Linked DNA regions of Homo sapiens. The protein of the gene in region 1 purifies or fractionates together with the protein of each later gene. This does not show direct contact. Each region holds a gene or a part of one and is shown on either strand. Other genes may lie near its edges.

Region 1 (3,500 bases):
CATAGGTTATACACCTTTGCCCTATTCTGAAGGTTAATTTTTTTCTTACATATTTCTCACCAACGTATTTAATTTTTCCATGCTTTAGATTTGAATTTCTAGTTTGTCTTGTTTTAATTCAGTGTTATTGCTTCTGTCAGCCATGTACATATTCTCTAGCATTCTAATCTTTCTTTTTTTTTTTTTCTTGTTTTGCTTTTCTTAAAAGTGGGCAAATGTAATATAACTTCTATACTTTTTTTTAATTTACTTTAATAGTCATCTTACTGAGGAATAATTTACATACAATCAAGTGCATCCATTTTAAGGGTACAGTTCAATGATTTGACAAACCTAAGGGCATGTGAAAACACCGCCCCATTCAAGAGAAGGACCACTCCATTACCTCAAACCAGTCCCCTTGGGCCCTTTGTGTTAACTTGGAATGGCTTCTGTTTCTTATTTCATCTCTTTATCTACAGATCTTGTCACCCACCGAACCTGAGACCAGTACCCTAGTTATTCTCCACTGTATTCCCAGCTCCTGGCATAATGCTTATATAGTAGGCATTTAGTATGTATTTCTTGAATAAATTGTAATTTTGAATTTTGTAATCATTGCCTTCTAAAAGTTGTTTGAATCTTTTTGCTGCAAACCCTTTTTTCATTGTTTTGTTTTCATTATTGGTTATTGGTACTTTTCTTGAAGGTCTTTTTGATATTGCCTATGATATTTTGATAAGCTCATTTATTCATTAAACATGTATTGAATATCTTCTCTGTACCAGACACATACAGTGGTGAGCCAGAAAGATTAAAGTTCCTGCTATGTGGGGCTTACATTGTACCAGGAGCTCACATTATCAGAAAGAAACTTTCTGCTCTTCTTCACTCTGTTATATACCCAGAGTCCGTGTGACCTTCAAATGATCCTTGAGCTTCCTCTCCATAGGCATCGTGATCCATTTGATTATACACTACACACATACACACACCATAACCCCAAGGATGTTAAATAACTTCGAGAGAGAAGAGCCTGAACCAAGATTGGGGCTGAGGAGTTGGAGAAGTAGAGGTGATTCAGAAGGGATGTGGAAAGTTACGATTGGAAGATTTGTGATTGGTTGCATATAGGGAGTTCTGGGAAAGGAAAGAATTTAGGATGAGTCTCTAAGTATTTGACTTGGGCAGTTGACTGCATGAAGATTCTCCTACCTGAGGAAGGAAGTATTGGTCATCATGAGCACTTCAGGTTTTTGTTTGTTTGTTTGTTTGTTCTTGAGACATTGTCTTGCCCTGTAGCCCAGGCTGGAGTGCAGTGGCGCGATCTTGGCTCACTGCAACTTCCGCCTCCGGGTTCAAGCAGTTCTCCTGTCTCAGCCTCCCAGGTAGCTGGGATTACAGACATGTGCCACCGCACCCAGCTAATTTTTGTATTTTTAGTAGAGACAGGGTTTCACCATGTTGACCAGGCTGGTCTCAAACTCCTGACCTCGTGATCCGCCCGCCTTGGCCTCCCAGAGTGCTGAGATTACAGGCATGAGCCACCGCACCCAGCCAGGCACTTCGGTTTTGAATGTATTCACTGGAAGAGTCTATATTTTAGTTGACAAGTGCAAAAGGCAATTGGGTATATGGATTTGGACCTCAGAAGGAAGGTCTGGACTAGAGAAATATTGGTAGCCAATGGCATCTATATGGCAGGTGAAACCTTTGACAGATGCAATTACTGGCAGAGATCTTATGAATAAGAAAAATGGTTCACATATGTGCCCTAGAGAATACAGCATGTAAGGGGCAGCAGAATGAGATGAGCCCACAAAGGAGCTTGGGAAGGAGTAGCTAGGCCAGATATAGTGGCTCACACCTGTAATCCCAGCACTTTGAGAGGCCAAGGCAAGAGGATCACTGGAAGTCAGGAGTTTGAGACCAGCCTGGGCAGCATAGTGACACCCTCTCTCTACAAAATGAAAATTAGCAGGTCATGGTGGCATGCTGCTGTATTCCCAGCTACTTGGGAGGGTGAGGCGGAAGGATCGTTTGAGCCCAGGAGTTTGAGGCTACAGAGAGCTATAATAGGGCCATTGCACTTCAGCCTGGGTGACAGTGAAACCCTGTCTCTGAAAAAAGAAACCTAAAACTGGAGGTCTGTGTATTGCAATGAGTGCTCTTTAGACATTAAGACTTGAATATGAAGACTTGACCTCCAGAAATTAACAAGTAACAGTATCATGGAGGCATGCAACACAGTATTGTCAGATGGCATGACCTCAAAGATGCATAAGGGTGAATCAGTGATCTGAAAGCAGCAGCAGGCTCCCGGAATACACCAGCACCCTCCTCTGGGCCCTGTGGAATATGGGGACATGCTAGAATTTAGCAGCTTCCTCTTGCACATTTCAGTTAAGGCAAGTAGGTGGAGGATGTGTCCTTCCAAGTCATTGGAGGTAGATGAGTTTGCCCCACAGAGGCCAGTAGAAAGGATTCAGCTTTTATTGTTCCTAGGATACTTGAGTTCAGGTTACAGAGGACCAAGAAAAGGCACAGATGTGTTTATAGGATAGGTACACAGAGAAACCAGCACTTGAGATGCTGATGAAGATGACAGAAATGAAAGGCATTACATTAGGTGGTTTCCACATCACACATTGGATGCTAAAGCTGATATGAGCCTCCAAGTGCTCAGAGGCTGTGATTATGGCTGCATTTGGTGTTTCTGGGAGGGGACAGAGTAAAGCAGAACCTCAAGCACTGAAGAGCTTTCGTTACTGCCTGCTGTGCAACAGGGAAATTGGAGTTTTGAGTGGAAGAATCTCAGAAAAGAGTATAATCCTTGCAATGGTAAAAAGAACCTGTGGGCACTTGAGATCTAATGACAGAATGAAGAGCAAAGGCTGGGGTGGAGAAGGAAAGCCAAATGGGAGTCTCCTGTGCAAAGAAGCACCAAGAAACTGCCAAGCTTCAGGAGAGTGGAAAGGGCAGTGTGTGTGCGAGCATCATCACCTCACTGTTTCTGTGGCTGTGGGGCTGCTGCTTTGTATTTGGTTGTGTTGCCCTTTCTGCGTTAGTTTTTCATGCCGTATTTCAGACAGCGTCTGACTCATTAGGATCATCCTAATGCACAGCATTGTGTAGCACCTAGCTGCCATTTTCACAGCAACTTCTGCAAATTTTTCTTTGAAATATTCTTGCTCAGTGGTATGGTCAAGAGGCTGATAGCCAGAATCTGCAAAAAAGAAAAGCAAAGAAAAAAGAAAAAAAAAAAAGCAAATGATAAAAACCAGGGCAGGGCCAGGATTGAAATAACTGGTGATTAGCCCCCTCCCACCAAATTTGAAGATTCACTCAGATTTTTGATGACTTTCACAAAGCTGTGATCATTCGAAATAAGAATTCTTACAACTAAGGAAGAAACTCTTCATGCAGTAGTAGTTTTGTGGTTCTGAGCCAGTGAAATATTTTCCCTTAGGGCGAAGAATAACACTGGGTGCTTTAAGTGAGGCAGAAAGAGCAGGAAAGAG
Region 2 (3,500 bases), on another chromosome or scaffold:
GCTGACACTGTCCCGTGCATAATTCTTCCTTTGTTCTGAAAGAGAAATTGAAAAAGCCATGATTTGTCCCCTAATAGACTGAAGTTCATATGTTGGTATCATGTGGCTATCTCTAAAACTAGTCTATCTCACATATAAATACAGTAGCTGACAAGTTGCCATTGTGTGGTGTATCTGAAAACACTCATTATTCGCAGTAAATCTAAAAACCACAAGAAAGTCTAAATAATAGGCAAGAACAATTTGATCCACTATCCATTTTTAGAATTCCAAAGGTTAACAAGAGTATAAATATTATAAGAAAAAAAGTTATTTCATCTAAAGGTTTTATTTATCAGTCAGGGACCTACTGTTTGACAAGTCAATTACAACTGGCTTATAAATTTCATCTGTTACTGCACTGATATCAAAATGTAATTGCAAATATTGTCATAGATACTGTATTATATGAGTTAGACTACATTATTAAAATAATAGGCATTACAAGGAACATCTCCTTTTGCAATATCCAAATTGGGATAGTGTTAGAGGAGATTTAAAACATGATTCAATCACATGGCTTGCCATTAAATATTAACAGTTTTCACACATCTACAAAACACACAAATGTGATACTTAGAATTATAAATATAAGCTGATAGGAAAAACAAGAAAGTCAGGTAGAAAGTTATTGCACCAAACTACTTAAAAAGCAAAAAGAAACCTTTAATTTTCTTTTCTGAAATGCTGCAAAACCAAAAAAATAACATTAAAATATAAAATGTATGTCGGCAATATTTGGTATTTGTTACTCTCTTTTTAAAATTTGTATTGTTTTTTAAAATATGGAACACTTCATGAATTTGAGTGCCATCTCTGCACAGGGGTCATGCTAATCTCTGTATCATTCCAATTTTAGTATATGTGCTGCCAAAGTGAGCACTATTTGTTACTTTTCTAATCAAGCAACTTGCTTATTTGTAAATTCAGAGTTGCCCTATTTCTTCTAAACAGAATGCTATGATGAAAAATAACTCTGAGAGGGAATTATAAGATTTATTGTTCCAGCTTCGGCTCTGTCACTAAGTAGGAAACTAAATTTGGGCAAGAAACTTAATACCCTGGGCCTCAGCACCCTTACTGTAAAATAAAAGGATTAAACAAGGTCAAACCTAAAGGCCTTTAAGCCATTAACATTCTGACATATAGATATACCTTAGCTTTCCCAACAACCTATTTTTTTGTAAATGTAAACCTATTTCTTTTAGTTAGTATAGATATTCTATAATAGATAAGTTGTTTGGAAAGTTCTGCTGAACATAAAAGCTGAGCAAGTACAAAAATATAAAGTGCATATATACATATGCAGACTCAGAACATTAACACAGAATTTTAAGAAAACTTAATAAATTTTCATTTTACAACACATATGAATTTCATTTATATTTACTTTTAAAATTTAGATTAAAATCTCCATGTCCTTGTATCAATATTACTCTGATATTCCAATACACTCCATTTTTGCTTTTGCAGCATTAAAATTACTTAATAAAAACAGATGCACTACAAAATTCACTCTGTGCTACCTTTCTTTTTTTGTTTGGATGATGACCTGAGGAAGTATGATCCATCTGGTCCTACCAAAATAATGTCATCAAAAAGAAAGATCTGGTTTCACCTAAAATTTTCTCTCCCAATATAACAAAACATAAACCTTCACTTACATGACTGTATTCTACATATTTTTAAAAAGTGAGCGACTGTGATTTTTCTGATTAGTTGTTGAGGATTAATCAGTGTGAGATATTAACACATCGATAATTGTCCCTGTGACAGCCGTTATGACTCTTGTAATACAATATATAATTCAGGAATATATTTCACAAAACCACATCTAGAAATAATCACTATTTCAGAGTCACTGGTTCACCATATTCTAACACAACTGTCCACGATAGATTCAGAGCAGGAGGGCTCGGCTTGCTTTGATCTGACCTTAGGACAGAAAAGAAATGGCAGTGGTTGCCATGACACCCAGTCATGATATGGCAGCTCCTGGATGTTCAAATGCTTTGTCTTTCAGGTAATTTATTGGCAAATACAACAGTTGAAGATCTGAAATACTGTGTGTTTCTATTTAGATATTCTCATTATGAAGTATTAAGAATTTATCCCTGACCTCTTGATTTCCTAACCCATAGTTTCCCAATCCCACAGAAACATAATTTACAGAAATGAGAAGAAAAACTATCTGATAGCATTTTAAACAGTATGACATTAACCGATCACTCTGAGTGCCTAGAAGATATGGTGTCATTTCTAATATTCCAAATTAAGAATCCACTTTAGGAATTCCTAAGCTGCTTTCTCTATGTTGTACAATAAATAAGTTGTATAAGAAACTACCTTTTAAAGATCCTAAAAATGTATAAATGCCATAAATGGACTTATAAATAAACTAGTAGTTCCAGTGATTTTTAAGTCAATCCATAAAGGTTAATATTAACATTTTAATAGGCAATTTTGAAAGACATTTCCTAAAAGGCAATTATAATACATTTCTTTTTTATGAGAATCACATGTATTCACAAGAACTGGTATAAATAGTAATTAGGCTCCTAAGCTAGAAATCTCACCAAAGCCTTAAAACAGTATAAAAAGCCTAACTAAAATCTCTCAACACTACTCAAGATGAATCCTCTAATGAAATTCACCACTTTTGCTAACAGTGGTTCTCATCCTTGGCTGCATGTTGGAATGAACTTTATAAAACAGTGTGCAACTCATCTACTATATACTATCTCTTCAAGCAGAACATTTTCCTTTCCAAATTAAGAATGTAAATATCGTCAAATGGTATATTAAATAATAAATTCATGAATAAACATGGCAGTAGGGTTTTAGGTTTCTAGTAGTACAAGCTGCTCAACTCCTAACATAAGACTAAGTCTATTTCCCCTCCTATTCTGGCCCCTGCCTCTCTTTCTCGCTCAGAATCAATTAGAGGTAGGATGAAACTTACTTGGCTATAGAACCACTGGTTGTGTTTCACTATTTTGTCTATTAGCTTTTATGTCATGGTCCAGAATGTACAACTCCAAACAGACAGAATTACATGAATTCAGTAACCAACGATGAAAAATATTTACATACAATTTTATCATACACTATTGCAAAAATTGATATTCAACTCCCAGATCAGAAATACTAAATTTAGGTTTCATTTAATTTGTTAATTAGTTGAACTACAAGTATAAAAAGCATCCAGGTGTTGGTATTTACACTTAATTCCCTTTCACATGCATTGCTGTTTATGCATAATATAACATTTGAAACGGCTAATATTCAAAGATACAGCTAATATTTAGAATTTTTTTTCTCTTTCTCTAAAAACAAAAATGTTCCTTAGAGAGTAAGGATTTGGCCATTAACAAGAAAAAAGTAACATAAAAGCAGCTGCTGAGTATTCCTCTCTCTAAATAAAACAATGGGCTAGAACTCATATTACTTTATACTTACAA
Region 3 (3,500 bases), on another chromosome or scaffold:
GTTAATGTGATAGGAAGGCAAATATGCTATTCAACAACTACATCTTGGTTGCACAGTGGTTCCTTAGGTCTTTGTTTTGATAGCTTGTCATGTTTATATTTTATTAAAATATTCTGGGTACAGATTAACTTATTTGCTTTGTGTTTAAGTATTCTATTTGCTTGAAAGTAGGCACTGCTGAGGTTGTCATAGCTAGCTTAGAACATCTTGGATTTCGTTTGTTCTAGTGAGATGATTTTTGGGTAGCTTCCATAATGGAGCACAGTTGGAGTGTGTCTCAAGTGCATTTCTTTCATTGTTAATGGAAAAAGAGCATGATTGTCACATGGCCCCTAAATCACAGCCTTTGGCTCATCTGTGCTGATTCTGTACCAACTTGTCCTGGCACAAACTAATTCTAACATAGCTGTTTTGGTTAAGCGGGTGGAATGTGCAGGGTGTCTTTTTGAATGTGTGCCTTAAAGTGGCATGTGTTTTCCTTATGTTATTTGAGTCCTATTCAGAATGACAAAGCATAACTTGTCTTCTCGTCTTTTGTGCTTAAGAACATCTTACCAAATAGCGTCTTATTAATCAAGCAACAGCAAGAAAATTTGAGAAGTGATTTTGACTGGCTGCTGTGGCCAGATGTAGAAATCAGATCTTTTAATACTTGCTCTAGTACCCAGTTGTCTTAAATTAAACAACGAAAATATCTTGGGATTGCTGTTTTTGGTGCTAGCTGGCATTCTGTGATTCCAGGGCAAATCTAATGGAAAAATACAGTAGTCATGTTTTTGATTGCTTTGGAACAGTTAAAAAGAAAAGTTACAGGAACAAAGAGAGGAAGGATGTTAAGAAATGAAAGGCTAGGGGAAAATGTTCCATTAACCTCCTCATAGTTTTTTAAAAGTTACAGTTCATTGCTCCAGAAATTTGAGTAAATAAGTGCCATTAAAGTTGCATAAAGAAAATTGGCCATTTTCTCTTTTCTGTCTTTCAGGGCATTCGGGATATGTTAAACTTCAGTGTGTTATTGACTAGATAAATGATCCGCATAAAGTCCTTTTGCCTTAAAGGAACTTTTTTTTTTTTTTTTGGCCATTGTCACTTCAGGGTATCTTACTGGTAAACCCTTAAACCCCTTGTTAGATCTTCAGAGCTACATAAAATTAGATCTCAATTTTTTGAGGTTGTCTTCATTATTTTACCATTAACTAGTTGCCCTAGAACTGCAATGAGCTAATTGATGTCCTGTCCTGTCCTGTCCTCCCCTTCCCTCCCGCCCCCTTCCGGGACAGAGTCTCACCCTGTCGCCCAGGCTGGAGTGCATTGGCATGATCTCGGCTCACTGCAACCTCCGCCTCCCAGGTTCAAGCGATTCTCCTGCCTCAGCCTCCACTGAGTAGCTGGATTACAGGTGCTTGCCACCACACCCGGCTAATTTTTTGTATCCTTAGTAGAGATGGGGTTTCACCATGTTGGACAGGCTGGTCTCCAGCTCTTGACCTCGTGATCCGCCTGTCTCGGCCTCCCAAAGAGTTGGGATTACAGGCATGAGACATCACGCCCAGACTCTTTTTTTTCTTAAGACATAATCTCACTCTGTCGCCCAGGCTGGAGTGCAGTGGTGTGATCTCACCTCACCGCAGCCTCCGCCTCCCTGGTTCCAGCTATTCTCGTGCCTCAGCCTTGCCAGTGGCTGGGTCTACAGCGGGGGTGCCACCACGCCTGTTTAATTTTTGTATTTTTAGTGGAGACGGGGATTCACCATGTTGGCCAGGCTGGTCTCGAACTCCTGCTCCTGACCTCAAACAGTCCTCACGCCTTGGCCTTCCAAAGTGCTGAGAGCCAGGCGCCTGGCTCTATGTCTTTTTTTGGGGGGTATGGAGTCTTGTTCTGTTGCCTAGGCTGGAGTGCAGCGGTGTGATCTGGGCTTACTGAAGCATCCACCTCCTGGTTTCAAGCAGTTCTCCTGCCTCAGCCTCTCAAGTAGCTGGGACTACAGGCATGCCCCACCACGCCCACCTAATTTTGTGTGTTTATTTTTAGAAGAGAAGGTTTCACTGTGTTGGCCAGGCTGATCTCCAACTCCTGATCTCAAGTGATCCGCCTGCCTTGGCCTCCCAAAGTGCTGGGATTACAGGCATAAGCCACTGCGCCTGACTCCTATGTCTTTTATTTCTAGGTGTGTCCCGTATCAGTAGAACCTGACTTTGACAATAACTTGGAATTTGAAGAGGAGGAGAATTATGTGAAGTGAGGCTGTTGTCTGACTGAAATTCCTAATTGTAGGGATGGTTTCATTTAAGTAATTTTGGAGCCTTACACCAAGCTCCATGCTGAGGGCAGGACCCCTAGATGAACCAAATGTTGTTTCACTTACTTTGTTTTCATGGTTTGTTTGCTTTCAGTTTCTATAGCTTTCGGTCCAGCCTTTTTCAGATATTGAAATGATTTTCGTTTTGGAGAAAGAAAGGCATGGTCTCTCTTTTCTTGATCCTTTTTCTAATCTGCTGATTTTACTATTTTGGGAATAATCTCTTTTGTCCTTCTGTCCTCTCTTAAGTCTCTTAAGATGTGAAGGTTTAGCCACCCATCCCATCCAAACAAGATTGGGCACAGCAGCCTAAAGAGATGTGTCATGAGAGGTTTTCCTTTTCTCCACATATATGTTAGTGAATGACTTTGTGCTCCTGTATGTTAATTGGGTCTTGTCATGTTAGCATTTAGAAGTTCAGACCCTTCAGGGATTCCTAAACCTTGGGAAAAAATAACTTGATCATTTACATTTTCGTGAAGCAGTCTTGCTCTATCATTCATACTGTGTCTCCACAAGACATTTCCGTCCCTTTTCATAATTTTAGTCAAAGCCACCTAGTAACCTTTAATTATATAGGAGAGCTTGATTAAGCAGTGGGTCAGATGCTCTGAACCACCTTGATTCTTAGAAGGTCATGAAAAAATGTTGCCTATAGTTAATAATTTTCTTAAAACTTTATTAACTATGTAATTATTTTATGAGCCTCTGATGTTTTAGTACGACATTCCACCAGTGGAAACATGCTCCCCTTTATTATGTGGCAAGAATGATAATTCGGGCCAGGTGTTGTGGCATGTGCCTGTACTTGGGAGGCTGGAGGATCACTTGAGCCCAGGAATTTGAGGCCAGCTTGGGCAATGAAGAAAAAAATTTTTTTTAAAGAATGACACTCAAGAGTTGTGCTTAGTTATTGTTGAAGGATGCTTTATAGACCTCAAAAATGCTGTAATCGATGCCCTATGGTGCCTGATTGTTCTCTGAGCAAATCTAGCTATGGTTTTGCTTTTGCTCTTCTTCTGCAACATCTAAATGCCTATCCTAAGGTTCCTTCTCTGTTTCTCTATGGTTTTGCAGCTGGTCAGGGTTCTTGGTTGTAACAAAGAAACTGGTCTTGGTTAATTTAAGCCAAAAAGGAATTAATCAAAACGGTATTAGGTCACTCAGTATTGACAAGGCCAGGGTACAGGTTGACCAAGAC
Region 4 (3,500 bases), on another chromosome or scaffold:
TGTACCCCTCACCCAAGCTAGTTTCGGAGTAAATTCACTTTTTTTGGTACCAGGCCTTGCTCTTGTTAATTGGACTCTGCATCCGGTGAACAACTAACCTGCATTTTGGTTAAATAATCATGCTGAAGTTTTTTTTTTTGGTTTTTGTTTTTTGTTTTTGAGATGAAGTCTCGCTCTGTCGCCCAGGCTGGAGTGCAGTGGCACGATCTCGGCTCACTGCAACCCCCGCCTCCCGGGTTCGAGTGATTCTCGTGCCTCAGCCTCCCGCGTAGCTGGGATTACAGGCACCCGCCACCGCACCCGATTTTTTGTATTTTTAGTAGAGACGGGGTTTCACCATGTTGGCCAGGCTGGTCTTGAACTCCTGGCCTCAAGTGATCTGCCCTCCTCAGCTTCCCAAAATGCTGGATGTGAGCCACCGCACCCAGCCCTATATTAAAGTATTTTAGGAATATTTCTTAGGATTTTTTTTTTTTTACCTTCTTTTAGTGCATTACAGTGATTCTCCCTGTGTCTCTCTAAGCCCGTGTTTTCCAATAGGCTAGCCAACAAGCCACACGTAGCTATTTACATTTAAATTTAATGAGATAAAATATAAAGTCAGCTCCTCAACTGCACCACCAGTTTCGAGAATCCTGTGGCCACATGTGGCTAGTGGTGCAGACACAGCATTTCCATCACATCAGGAAGTTCTACTGGGCAGGGCTGCTGCAGGCTGTTCAGGTTACAGGGTGGTTAGCAGGAGGCTGGGAGGCATCCACAATGCTCTTAAAAGGTCACTAAGAGAGGCAACAGGAAATAGCAAGAGGCAGAATCCTGCTGAAGTCCAGAAGATTTGGCTCTGACTGCTGACTGCTGTCTGACAGATCTTATTATCATGATCTGCAGGACAGAATGTGACCTGTTGATTTTTTTTAGTCCCTAACTGCTGGACATCCAGGTGACAGGGTCTGAGTTGATTACCACCAGCTCTGCTGACCAGCTGGGGAGATGAAGGAAATAATCAGACAAGAGCCACTGGGGCACAAGAGTGGTGCAGCTGGAGTAGGGAGATGCAGGGGAGGTGACAGGGGAGGTGATGGAGCGAGGAGGGGGCGCCCTGGGTCTTGCCAAGGACCTCAGCTGGACGTCATCCTGGGAAGGCACCGAAGGGCTTTAAGAGATTGGTGATAAGGTTTACATTCTCCAAAGGTCACTGGTTGCCATGGAGAGAAGAGGCGAGAGACTGTTAGTTACTGCTCTTGAGCCAGCAGTGCCCTTAGCAAACTCAGAAAAGAGAAGGCAGAAGGCACAGGGCTGGGAAGTAAGTGGAGGAGGAAACGGGCTGGGGGACAGTGGATGGGGAGGGTGGGGCAGAGTGCAGACCTTAGAAACACATGTCTCTGAAGAAGTGAGAGGGCAGCCATGATAACCACTGTTAGAGCTATCGCACATTCTACAGTGTTCTCCATCTGCTTGACACTGCTCTCAGCCTTTATGTAAATGGACTCAGTCTTCATTACAATCCTGTGAGGGACGTACTCTTATTACAGTCCTTATTCTTGGTAGTTATGTGCTACAAAGTTGCCACAAACACTCAACGAGCAAATTATTTATAGGAGAAATACAAGGCTAGGTACCCTGTAAGCTGCTGGTCACAACATTGTTACCAATCGATCAATATATAACCTTATTTCTGTTTAAAGACACCTTATGTAATATATATAGTTGATTCATTAACACTGATCTTGGCTGGGCATGGTAGCTCACACCTGTAATCCCCGCACTTTGGGAGGCCAAGGTGGGAGGATTACTTGAGCTCAAGAGTTTGAGACCAACCTGGGCAACATAGAGAGACCTCATTTCAACTTGAAAAATAAAAAACATGAGGCCGGGCATTGTGGTTCGTGCCTATAATCTCTGCAGTTTGGGAGGCGGAGGCGGGTGGATCACCTGAGGTCAGGAGTTCAAGACTAGCCTGGCCAACATGGTGAAACCCCGCCTCTACTAAAAACACAAAAATTAGCAAGGCGTGATGACATGTGCCTGTAATCTGTGCTACTCAGGAGGCTGAGGCAGAAGAATTGCTTGAATCCGGGAGGTGGAGGTTGCAGTGAGCCAGGATCGCACCATTGCACTCCAGCCTGGGTGATGAGCAAAATTCCACCTAAAAAAATATCAAAAACATTATCTGGGTGTGGTGGGGTGTACCTGTAGTCCCAGCTACTCAGGAGGCCGAGGTGGGAGGATTGCTTGAGCCAGAGAGGTAGAGGCTGCAGTGAGCTATGATTACACCATTGCACTCCAGCAGCCTGGGCAACAGAGGGAGACCCTGTCTCAAACAACAACAACAACAAATTAATTGATCTCAGGACAACAGCACCTTAACTCATGCCTGACAAAGCTTCTCTAACACATGCATTTTCTCTGTAAGGAACATCACAGCCTCCTCGTGCTAAACTTTGCACTACACTTGGAGACAATTTTAACAGAGAAATAACCAAGAAAAAAGCATAAAAATCTGAAAAACATGGCACTAATCAGACTGTGAAAAGGACACAGTTTACACTATGACAGCTGAAATAAGAAGGCAGGGCAGCACTTTGTTGGACCTTGGCTGGGAACATGAGCCTGGAGGAGCTCACATTTTTTTGCCGCTCTGCACACATCTTTGAAACGACCCCAAAAGGCTAGGGGTACTGATTTTGGGGTAACAAATTTTAGCAAGTGAGCAAATTAACAAGTACAGACTCTTAACGAATGAGGATCAACTATAGTTGTGTTTTACAGATGAGGAAACTGACGCACCAAAGGGTAACTTGCCTACACAGATACACAGACATTAAGTGGCAGAGCTGGGATTGAACCCAAGCTGTCTGGCCCCAGAGTCTGTGCACAGTGGAAGGAATTGTTTTCCCAGGAATTAAAGCAGTGCTCAAAACATCCAAGGAAAAGTGTCTGAGAATGTGGGGCTCACCTCAGGGAAGTTTCCATCTCTCCAGGATCCTGGCCCCTCAAACCTTAGTTGTCTTAGTCGCTGATACCTTCACAATAGCTGTTTTTGTTTGTGTGTGTGTGTGTTTAATTTAATAGAGATTTGATGGTTGTTACTGGTGGGAAGGTCAAATGCAGTTACTCCTTCAAAGGCACAAGTAGAAGTCTTTCTTCGGCTGTTTTTAATCATAAAAAAGAACCGTTGCCAAATACTCCTTGCTTTATATTCTACCTGCTTTTGCCAATTTAATATTCCTCGGGCAACTGCTAAACCTTTTGGAACCTCAGTTTACTCCTCTGAAGGAAGGGATCGTGGTACTCACAACAAACCTCACAACCGTGAGCATAAAACAAGAGAACAGAAATACCCCAAGTACAGAGCCTGAGGGTATTCAGGCTCTGAACAAAAGAATGGAGAACTAGGTGAGAGGCAAACTTCCGCCTCTGCCTAAGGGAGGCTCCATTCTGTTCTGCTTGAGGGAGGCAAAGCTTGGAGGTCAAGGTCATAGGATGAGTGTTCTTCCTTT

The links. Proteins that work in one complex are often made in the same cells at the same time.
Region 2: the proteins of LYRM4 (region 1) and EPS8 purify together in Homo sapiens (affinity purification with mass spectrometry; one large-scale study listed by BioGRID and IntAct). This does not show direct contact.
Region 3: the proteins of LYRM4 (region 1) and STARD7 purify together in Homo sapiens (co-immunoprecipitation; one large-scale study listed by IntAct). This does not show direct contact.
Region 4: the proteins of LYRM4 (region 1) and FXN purify together in Homo sapiens (affinity purification with mass spectrometry; one large-scale study listed by BioGRID and IntAct). This does not show direct contact.

Annotation. Positions count from the first base shown.
Region 1 is NC_000006.12:5,219,451-5,222,950, reverse strand, and holds part of LYRM4 (LYR motif-containing protein 4), read left to right. Parts: intron 1-3,500.
Region 2 is NC_000012.12:15,670,889-15,674,388, forward strand, and holds part of EPS8 (epidermal growth factor receptor kinase substrate 8), read right to left. Parts: intron 36-3,500; coding exon 1-35. UniProt on the Homo sapiens protein: Signaling adapter that controls various cellular protrusions by regulating actin cytoskeleton dynamics and architecture. Depending on its association with other signal transducers, can regulate different processes.
Region 3 is NC_000002.12:96,202,328-96,205,827, reverse strand, and holds part of STARD7 (stAR-related lipid transfer protein 7, mitochondrial isoform 1 precursor), read left to right. Parts: intron 1-3,500. UniProt on the Homo sapiens protein: May play a protective role in mucosal tissues by preventing exaggerated allergic responses.
Region 4 is NC_000009.12:69,042,252-69,045,751, reverse strand, and holds part of FXN (frataxin, mitochondrial isoform 1 preproprotein), read right to left. Parts: intron 1-3,500.